Regions from separate parts of the Homo sapiens genome. Here region 1 is linked to region 2. The links come from fine-mapping of genetic effects on gene expression. A gene starts in region 2. The other region holds a variant in brackets. All regions are shown on one strand. Distances are from middle to middle.

Region 1 (5,374 bases), 64 kb after region 2:
GAAGGAAGGGAGAATTCTGCAGCTAATCACTCTGCACTCTTGTTTCCACCAGCAATTCCCCTGAATTAGCTGTCACAGATTTCGTTAGATAGGATTTTTTTTTTTTTTTTTTTTGTAGATGGAGTGTCTGTCGCTGAGGCTGGAGTGCAGCGATGTGATCTTAGCTCACTGCAACATCTGCCTCCCTGGTTCAAGTGATTTTCCTGATTCAGCCTCCTGAGTAGCTGGGATTACAGGTGCACACCACCACGCCTGCCTAATTTTTGTATTTTTAGTAGAGACAGGGTTTCTACTTGAACTCCTGACCTCCTGATCCGCCTGCCTCGGCCTCCCAAAGTGCTGGGATTACAGGCATGAGCCACAGCACCTGGCCTTAGATAGGATTTTTAACACACACCACCGGCTCCTACTCACTTCAGTGCCTTCAGGTGAGTGGTTCTCCTCTGCTGAAATACCTTCATCCTTCCTCTTCGTGAACCCAAATCCACCTCAGTCTGCAGACACCTTCCAAGTCACTTTCCTACCTGACCCCACTTCACCCCACCAGGACTGTGACTCAACCACGCTGACCAAGAGTCTACGATGGGGCCAGTCATTGTTTCTAGGGTCTTCTACCTTCCTCATCTCATTTCAACCCACAGAAAACATGTGAGGCAGATTTTTTTTCCCCCATTTTAGAGCTGATATAACCCAGGCTCAGGAAAGTTGAGAACTCCAGCTTCTTGACTCTCCAGGTTTTGTGCTCTTTTCTTTTCCCCATAACTCAAGGTGTTTTTTCCCTCATCAATGTCTTTTCCTTTATAAACATTCTAGTATTTCTGTGTACCATTCAGAAGAACTGCAAGAATTTTAGATCCAGGGTTAGGTGAGTCTCATGTAACAGTCTGTGGGAGGTTGGAAATGGAATAATTTCTACTTCAGTTATGCTGGATATTAAAATAAAGGTTGCCAAAAACATATTTCATTGCAAGCATCCAAGTTACTGGATGTCCAGAAATGAGAGGTATAGGGGCCAAGGCTCTGGCCCCCCTGGAGGTTGGAAAATCACTGACACGAGGCAGATTAATAAGAGAAAAGGCATACAAATTCATTTAACATGCACATGCTCAGGGAGAATCACAGAGTAACTGCCCATCCCCTAAAAGGTTTCAGAAGCTCCTCCAAAATTCTTAACTGAGTTTTGAGAAATGCATAAATCGTGGAATCCAAATCTCTATAAAGATACAGAACATTATCATCAGCTCTCAGAAAATTCCCTATGTTCCTTCCTGGTTCTCTCCAACTCTCCCTGAAGCTATCACTTTTCTGATTTTTTTTAACCTATATGCCCTCATTGTCAGACAGAGTTGATTTTTTTCCACCATAGATGCTTTTCACCTGTTCAAGAACTTCATATACATAGAATTACACAGTGTGTATTCATCAGGGGAAAGCTGTTTTCACTCAGTAGAATACATATATTTTTTCCTTTTTGTGGAGAATGGGGTCTTGCAATGTTGCCCAGGCTGGTGTCAAACTTCTGGGCTCAAGCGTTCCTTACACCTCTCCATCCCTAAGTGTTCGGATTACAGGCATGAGTTACCGCCCCCGGCCACACTCAATATAATATTTTGGAGATTCAGCCACGTCACGGCATGTGTCTGTAGTTCACGTCTCTTTTTTTTTTTTTTTTTCTTTTTTGAGATGGAGTCTTGCTCTTGTTGCCTAGGCTGGAGTGCAGTGGCACGATCTCGGCTCACTGCAACCTCTGCCTCCCGGGCTCAAGCGATTCTCCTGCCTCAGCCTCCTGAGTAGCTGGGACTACAGGTGTGCACCAGCATGCCCAGCTAATTTTTATATTTTTAGTAGAGATGGGTATTCACCATGTTGGCCAGGATGGTCTCGATCTCTTGACCTCGTGATCCACCCACCTTGGCCTCCCAAAGTGCTGGGATTACAGGCATGAGCCACTATGCCTGGCCAAACCTCCCTTTTCCTAGTAACTTGTTTTTTGCATTTCATTGCTTTCTCCCAAAAATACTTATACTAGATTTAGGGATTTTGTATTAAATATCTTTTAAATTATAAAAGATAATTTAAACCAGAAAATGTATCAGCTTACGTTACTGTTAAATAATGTAGTTTTGTGTTTAACTTTCTAGTGATACAGTTACTACTGAGTGAAAAATTGGGAATCTGGAACCTGGCATATTTGAATCTATGCCAGAATTTGGATTTCTGCATTAATCTAAATAGCTGAAGCTTTGTGTAAAGACGATCTAAACCTGAGATTTCAATAGCACATTTGAAATTATGATGTATTTCAATTATATACAGCACTGTTATATTTTATGAAATAGTTCAAGAATGACTTAGATAATCTACACATTATCATCTGTACATGGTCTAAGTATCGGTATGGTTCAAAGATTCACTGTTGAAATATTTTCCTAGGTTTTTCCAGCTTTATTAAGATATATTTCACATACAATAAAATTTACCCATTTAAAATATGGAGTTGTTATTTTCACTATATTCAAGAAGTCATGCAACCATCATTACAATATAATTTTAGGATATTTTCAACACTCCCTTTCCTCCCCTAAAAAACAAACCTGTACTCCATTTTCAAACCTTCCCTTCCAATCCCCAGCCCCAGGCAGCCACTGAACTGTTTTCTGTCTCTGTGGATTTTCCTATTCTGGAAAGTGCCTAAATGTTTTCCAAAGTGGCTGCATCATCTTACAATCCCACCAGCAACATACGAGGCTTTCAATTTCTCCATATCCCAGCCAACACCTGTTATTGTCTGCCTTTTTATTTTAGCCATCCTAGTGGGTATGAAGTGGTATCTGACTGTGGTTTTGATTGACATTCCTCTGATGACTAATGATGTCGAGCATCTTTTCACACGTTTATTGGCCATTTGTTTATCTTCTTTGGAGAAATGTGTATTCAAATCTTTTGCCCATTTTTAAAGTGGGTTGTTTGTCTTTTATTGTTGAGTTGTGAGAGTTCTTTATATATTTTGGATATATATATACACACACACACACACACACACACACACACACACACACACACGTAAATTGTCAGGTATACAATTTGCAAATATTTTCTCCCAGTCTATATCTTTTCACTTCTGTTAGTGAACAACAGTTTTGAGGAAGTACAATTAATCTTTGTGTGTGTTACTTTGCTTTGGCAATGCATTACAGAAACCACTGCCAACACAAGGTCACAACGATTTACTCCTATGTTTCCATCTGGGGGTCTTGTAGTTTTAGCTCCTAGGTTTGCTAAATAAAATTTATAGAAAG[T/C]CATTGGTTTTCATGGAGCTCCTGCACTAGACCCAACAGACCAAACCAAAATGGATTTACTCATATTGAAGTTCCACAACACCATGCCAAAACTAAGTTGTTTATCTGAACTTTCAAGAAATCAAGAGAGAGAGAAAATAGCCAAATTCCCAAATAGGCCTGTTTTAGCCAGCATGATGAGGAAGCTTCCTCTGCTTTAACCTTTACAAGGAGAGCAACTTTGAAACAGCTGTGTTTTGTTTTCTGTCTGCTTTCCTCAGCCCTTTTCTATCTAGAAAGCCATGATCTTCTGCTCAACTCACCAGAATGTGCATTCTTTTTCATAGAATGAGGTGTTGCTTGATTCTAGAATCACAAGTAAAGCCAATTAAGATCTTTAAACTAAATTCATTATAATTTTGTCTTAGGACGTGTTTAAGTCTATAACCCATAGGGGTTTGTGGCTATGGTTCATAGACCATGTTGTTCTAGGAGTAAGATAAGTTGGCAGCCAGTGACGGTGTGTACATCTTCACTTACATACCAAATTAGATTAGGCTTGAGCGAGCACAAGCTGATGTCAGTCCCTGCAATGGAAAGTCTCAACCCCTCATCCAGTTTATGTACGGGAGGCAGATCTCACACCACAGCCCATCAACTGAAGGGGAAGCTGAGTCCCAAGGAAGGTGTATTTTCTCCTTGGGTATATTCAGTATCATTTCTTTCAATCTGACCCTAAAACTTAACAGAGTAACTGAACCCTAGGAAAAGGGGAACACCCAGATCTTTTGAGTGCTGTTGGACATAGGATCTGAGCTGACACTGAGCTCAAACATGTTTATGGCTCCCCTGATCCAGTGGAGGTGTACAAAGGCCAGGTGATACATGAAGTCCTGGCTCAAGTCTGTTTCACATTCGTTGCACTAGGTCCATAAACCCATCCTGCGGCAATTTCCCTGACCAATGAGCACACAGTCAAAATGGATTTTTTTCTCTTTTTTGAGATGGAGTCTCACTCTGTCACCCAGGCTGAAGTGCAGTGGTGTGATCTTAACTCACTGCAACCTCCGCCTCCTAGATTCAAGCAATTCTCCTGCCTCAGTCTCCCTAGTAGCTGGGATTACAGTTGCAGGCCACCATGCCTGGGTAATTTTTGTATTTTTAGCAGAGATGGGGTTTTGCCATGTTGGCTAGGCTGGTCTCAAACTCCATTTGGGTTATATAAGCCCCAAATTGTAACTGCCCTTTTGAGTCACATTTCTTTGTGAACTCCCACATGTACGTATGTGATTAAAATCTGCTTTTTCTTTTGCTAGTGTGTCATCCAGGCTGGAGTGCAGTGGCACAGTCATGATTCACTGCAGCCTTGAACGCCTAGGTTCAAGCCGTCCTCCCACCTCAGCCTCCGGAGTAGCTGGGACTACAGGCGATCGCCGCCAAGCCTTAAGCTCCTGTCCTCTTATGTTCATGGATTCCCCCCACTCCACACCTCACCCATAAACATAAAAGGGCAGAGGAAAAGTTTCTTTCTCCTCAACGCTATTAGGACACATTCATGCTAGAGGTAATCAGTAAATATCTGTTCAATGAATGAATGAATAATGGGGGGTGAGGTGGTCCCAGAGTGTTTGGTCAGTTTTCTCCTGGCATTTTGATCTTTCAGTTTAGCTCTTTGCTGTCTTTTCCCAGGGATTTGCTGACTACAAGTTTGGCTATGAACTAATAACAAAAATAGCTAACACTATGTCTTGTGCCAGTTATTTTAAATAAATCATCCTAATTTACCTGCAAGGAAATTTCCATAGATATCATTAAAATCTTTACTTATAGATGAGGAAACAGGCTTCAGGAGGTTAATCTTCCCCAGGTCATACATCAGCAAGTGATAGAGCCAGGATGTGACCCGGCTCTCCCAAAGTCTGACCACTGACTGTTGGGGCAAATGTCTATCTGCATCTTTGCTGCCTGGAAAGGCAGAGAATATTCCCATTTTATCTACAGAAAGTCACATGGTAAAATGACATGTCCCAACTCATGGAATTTGTCAAATGGAGTCAGCATAAGACCCTTGGGTTTCCAACCCAATGCAAAATAAG
Region 2 (5,374 bases):
AAGCTGGCCTTGGCCATGGGACAAGACAGGATGAGTCAGATGAGAGCTCTGGGAAGCAGGGTCCCAGGACTTAGTAATCTGTTGGATATGGGATGTGAGGAAGCAATCCAGCTGACAGATGACCCTCCTACACCGGGTGCCATGCCACCCTTCTGCTTTCTGGGCACCTTCCTTGGTGTGACCAACTCTAGCTTATTAATATGAATAAACTTCACCCACTCCTCCTTTTCCTGCTACCCTCACCCCAGACCTGCTCCTGTAGAGTCCCTATCTAAAGGTTAAAAACTATGGTGTTGGCCAGGGGTAGTGGCTCATGGGTCATACCTGTAATCCCAGCACTTTGGGAGGCCAAGGTGGGCGGAGCACAAGGTCAGGAGTTCGAGACCAGCCTGATCAACATGGTGAAACCCCGTCTCTACTAAAAATACAAAAATTAGCTGGGCGTAGTGGTGTGTGCCTGCAATCCCAGCTACTCAGGAGGTTGAGGCAGAAGAATTGCTTGAACCTGGGAGCCGAGATCACGCCACTGCACTCCCGCCTGGGCGACAGAGCGAGACTCTGTCCTAAAAAAAGAAAAAGAAAAGAAAAATGCTAACCGGGTGTGGTGGCTCAATCCCAGCACTTTAGGAGGCTGAGGTGGGAGGATTACTTGAGGCCAGGAGTTTGAGCCCACCCTGGCCGACATAGTGAGAACAAGCTTTTTTTTTTTGAGACCGAGTTTCGCTTTTGTTGCCCAGGCTGGAGTGCAATGGCGCGATCTCGGCTCACTGCAACCTCCGCCTCCCAGGTTCAAGCGATTCTCCTGCCTCAGCCTCCCAAGTAGCTGAGATTATAGGCATGCGCCACCATGCTCGGCTAATTTTTTTGTATTGTTAGTAGAGACGGGGTTTCTCCATGTTGGTCAGGCTGGTCTCGAACTCCCGACCTCAGGTGATCCGCCTGCCTCCGCCTCCCAAAGTGCTAGGATTACAGGCGTGAGCCACCGCGCCCGGCCCGAGAACCTATCTAAAAAAAAAAAATCCGGAAACAAAAAAATCTTTGGTGTCCCTCTCCAGTTCTCTCTCCCCATCTCACCCCTCCCAGCATCTCACTTCCTCAATGTGCTCCCATTCCTATGGCCTCCCCATAGCTGCTGTCACTGCCAAGTTCTGGCAAGTCCATATCAGCTCATGTCTAGATTACCCATGAAATCCTCCCATCCATCCCCCAGACTCCGGACCCCACCACCACTCTCAAATAAAGCACCGATCCCGCACAGAGCCGCCTCAGCGATGTTCCCAAATGCTATCCGGATCTTGTCACTGAGTAAGATCCCTCGTTGGGGACTGCCCGGCCAAAGACTAAGACCCAAATGACTCAAAACAGCACAAGGCCCTCTGTTGCCTGACCCTGCTTAATCTGCTAATAAATACCAGAAGGGCCTTAGTCTCCCACATACCTCCAGTACGCACCATGCTGGGGGGGTTGCGTTTTTTGTTTTCTTTACCCCAAGCAGTTTCCTCTGCCTGGAATCTCCCCTCCTGCTTCGCAGCCTGGCTTACAATTCATTCCTCGGAGTTGGCCTCAGCTCTCCTCTCCTCGGGAGGCCTTCTCCAGCCCACGCCCCACCCTGCCACACCCCTACTGGGCGCTCTTCCCCACGGACTACAGGCCTTCCCCTTCCCTCTGGGCTGGGGGCAGCTGGGGCTGAGTATAAGTCTTACTCACGTTGGTGCCGCCAGCCCCAAAACAAAGCCTGGCCCACGTGGGTGCTCCGCGTATGTGTGTGGCTCTAGGCGGAGATGCCGGGGGTGGAAAGAGCCGGTAACAGAAACAGAACGTGCTAGAGGAAGAGCAGCCTGCAGGGAAGGCTGGCACAGATAACCACAAAAAGAAAGAAGGCCCCCGCATCACGTCTTCACCAAGACCCCACTGGCAAGGCGAGGACAGCGCCTTTGGGTGGATGCATCTGTGACCCAGAGGCAATGCTGGCTGTCCTGGTGTCTGATTTGATTGCATCTGATTTCAAAATTTGATCTCTGCTTCCTTCTGAAAACCTCATTCCCTTATGTCAGTTGTCAACAAGCCCTTGTCTAGTGCGGGCAGACTGTTTTCCATCAAGCAGTCCCAGCCAGGCTAACAATAAAATGGTTGGCAGTGAGCTTGGGGGCAGAAACCTGTTTCCATCCATGTGTCCCCGCAGCTAGCAAAGCCCTGGCACACGGCTGACCCTCAATAAATGCTTGCTGAATGGGTGAATTGTGTCTGCTTCCCCAGGAATAGGGGTGGGAGGCCTGAAGCCCCTGGGGACCGGTGGGGGCAGACAGCCTGAGATTAAACTTGATCCATAGATAATCCCCCAAATCCAGAAGCCACCTGGACAACAGTTGGCTGAACTGAGCTCCATCGTGGGATACATGCTGATGGTACTGCTGAGTTCACCAAGGGTCTCCCCGGGACCAGAAAACAGCTCCTCAAAATACAACTTATTATTCTAATCATTATTGGAGAGTGACAGAGAAAAGAGCGTCAATCCTTTGAGGGCAGAATCCATTTAGGAAGATTAAATGGCTATTCTCACCGCCGACCCCCAACCCCCGTTTTTACTTTTACAAACTTTATTATGAAAAATATCAAACATACAGAAAAGTGGAGAAAACAGTATAACGAATCCGGCCACCCATCACCCAGCCTCAGCGATGACCAACCCGCGCCTGACCTCTCCAGTCATCTATACCCCACCCCTCGAGGCAAATCTCCGACGTCCTCTCCTTACACGCGCAGACCTCGGTAGCGACGGGAATCCGTTCCGGACTCCTCTGGGGCCCTGGCCGGCTCCCTCGGCCCTGCTCAGCGCGGCGCGGGCGGGTTCTCAGCCCACGTCCGTGAAGCTGAAGGCCGGATCGTGCGGCGCCGCCCCGCCCCCCACGGCGCTTCCTCCTCGGTCCGCACCGCGAGGGTCACCGCGGCCCCGGAGCGCCTGGGACACTCGACCGGCAGCCGCGGGTGATGCGCGAGTGAGTCCCTCAGCGAAGCGCGGAAGAGAGAACGAAGAGGCGCCTTCCACTTCCTCTCGCTCTAACGCCGGCACCCGCCCCGCGCGTCCCTCGCCCCCGCTGCCCCGCCCCCTGCAGGGCGTGGCCACGGCCCGAGGGGCGGGGAAACACCCATATTTGGCCTTATATGGGCAGCCGCGTCACGGACGGCACTCATTCACATAAAACGCTGCGCGGCCGGCGGAATCCCCGGCTTCTAGGGCGGCGAGCGGCCGGGCTGGCTATCGAGCGAGCGGGGCGGGAACGCGGAGTTGCGCCGCCGCTCGGGCGCCGGGCTCCGTCGCGGCCGCAGCCCCGCGGGTCGCCCTCCCGTGCCTCGCCCGCGGACACCCTGGCCGTGGACACCCTGGCCGTGGGCACCCGCGGGGCGCGCGGCGCGGGGCCGCTGGCCGGCGGCGGCGGCGGCATGAAGGTCACGTCGCTCGACGGGCGCCAGCTGCGCAAGATGCTCCGCAAGGAGGCGGCGGCGCGCTGCGTGGTGCTCGACTGCCGGCCCTATCTGGCCTTCGCTGCCTCGAACGTGCGCGGCTCGCTCAACGTCAACCTCAACTCGGTGGTGCTGCGGCGGGCCCGGGGCGGCGCGGTGTCGGCGCGCTACGTGCTGCCCGACGAGGCGGCGCGCGCGCGGCTCCTGCAGGAGGGCGGCGGCGGCGTCGCGGCCGTGGTGGTGCTGGACCAGGGCAGCCGCCACTGGCAGAAGCTGCGAGAGGAGAGCGCCGCGCGTGTCGTCCTCACCTCGCTACTCGCTTGCCTACCCGCCGGCCCGCGGGTCTACTTCCTCAAAGGTGAGCGCTCGGGGTCCCTGCCACGCTCGCCCCTCCGGCGCCCCCGGGTCCCCTCCCTGCGCCGGGGCGCCCTCCTACACCCTGGGACCGGGAGAGTCACCACCTGCAGGAGTCTGCACCCTGTGGCTTGTTGTGCGCTTGGGAGGGCACTGCAAATGTCAGCACTCAGAGCTCCCCCTCTTCCCCACCCGCGTTCCTCGAAAGCGCCCGGCAGCGGGTCTGCCCGGTGGTCTGGGTGGAGTTGGTTATGCTGCGGGGGCTGCTGCTGTTTAGCAGTTTGGGGGCCGTCGGCTCGTGCCGGGCACGAGCCCCCTTTCCAGACGCGAGCTTCGCCGCTGTCGCTGGGGTCAGGGCTCGGGGCCTTCCTGATAGACTGATCTGGCGGGATCAGCAGGTCGCGATCCACTCTCCCTTGGTGTGGCGCCGTGGTGCCCCCCTTCCTCCCGCCTAGCCAGCTGTGGTCTTCACCGACCCCCTTGCCTTTTTGACCTGGCGAGTCCCTTCCCTTTCCATTTCATTTTATTGCTTTTTATTGTTTCCCTCCGGCCTCTTCTCCCCTCCTAGGTCTTTTCTCTAGCTCAGTTTGGAGCTCACATCCTTTCCACCCTTTTCACCTCCTCCTTCCTCCGCCCCAGGATTATCCCTGGGACCCATCCTGAGCTGAGCCTACAGCCAGCCAGCCACGAAATAGAGGTGCGCGGGGGCAGGGTGGTATGGAGATTCTGCGGCCTTTGATTTGACACCTCCCGGAGCTACCGCCACAGGCCTGCCCATTTCACCTGCCGGGAAGATAACTTTGGCTTCTGGTGGTGGGTGGGTGATTGACTCTCAAAATCCAAAGCATTGGTTTTTTCTGGGTTACTTCCTATGACTGCTCCTGCTTTGTGTTTGAGTCCTTTGTAACCTCAAATGACACCCGGGGAGACCTGACCCACATGTAGAGATGAGGGTTTAGCCCCAGCAGGGCCCCAAGGCCGTGCCAGCCCTGGCGCGGACACCTTGGGATGTAACAGTGTTGGGGATCAGAGCTCGGTGCAGAGAGCCGGCGCCGAGTTAGGAGCCTGTTTTAAAGCCATGCAACTTGAGTTTCACACAGTCCGGGCCAGGAAGATTCTGGAGACAGTTCCCCTCTCTGCTAGCACCTCCTGCTGACTGGTCCCCTGTTGATTTCCTGTTGGAGAGTTAACAGAGGTAGATGGTAATCGTCCTTCTTCTAACAGCCTATCCCCCAGGGGATAGAGGGTTGGCCCTCTGGCTCTGCAGAGGTTTCAGCGTGCCTCCTGATTTCTTTCTCTTCCTAATATGGTTTTTATCTCCTGTGGTTTGGAGAAGTTTCTGCCTCAGTAGTATGAAAGAGGTTCCAGGAGACCCTCCCTGGTCCCACCTCTCCTCCCCATGCTTCTCTAAGCTGGCCCTGCTGACAGTTTAGAAGTTGTCGCCACAAAGTAGGCAGCTCTATAGACTCACATCTCAGGAAAACTGGGTTAAAATGTTTTTTAAAAGAAGGTAACATATACACAGGTAAAAATTTGAACAGCATGAAGGCCCTGTGAT

The links. PIP is the estimated chance that this variant, and not a neighbour inherited with it, causes the effect.
Region 1: its variant is the best candidate, but not a certain one, in a credible set for the expression of DUSP5 in whole blood (INTERVAL, PIP 0.71).

The regions. Positions count from the first base shown.
Region 1 is chr10:110,558,683-110,564,056 of GRCh38, forward strand. No RefSeq gene overlaps it. Among named protein-coding and RNA genes, the nearest start is that of SMC3, 6.3 kb to the right of the region's middle. The variant T/C (reference allele first, on the strand shown) is at 3,300.
Region 2 is chr10:110,494,681-110,500,054 of GRCh38, forward strand. It overlaps DUSP5 (dual specificity phosphatase 5), which reads left to right and starts at 3,227. Exons shown (of 4, transcript NM_004419.4): 1 at 3,227-3,820. The coding sequence starts at 3,442. DUSP5-DT (DUSP5 divergent transcript) reads right to left here and starts at 1,802. Exons shown (of 2, transcript NR_187547.1): 1 at 1,708-1,802. RefSeq lists an enhancer at 1,749-2,272 and silencers at 2,754-3,283, 3,294-3,433, 3,504-3,563, 3,684-3,953.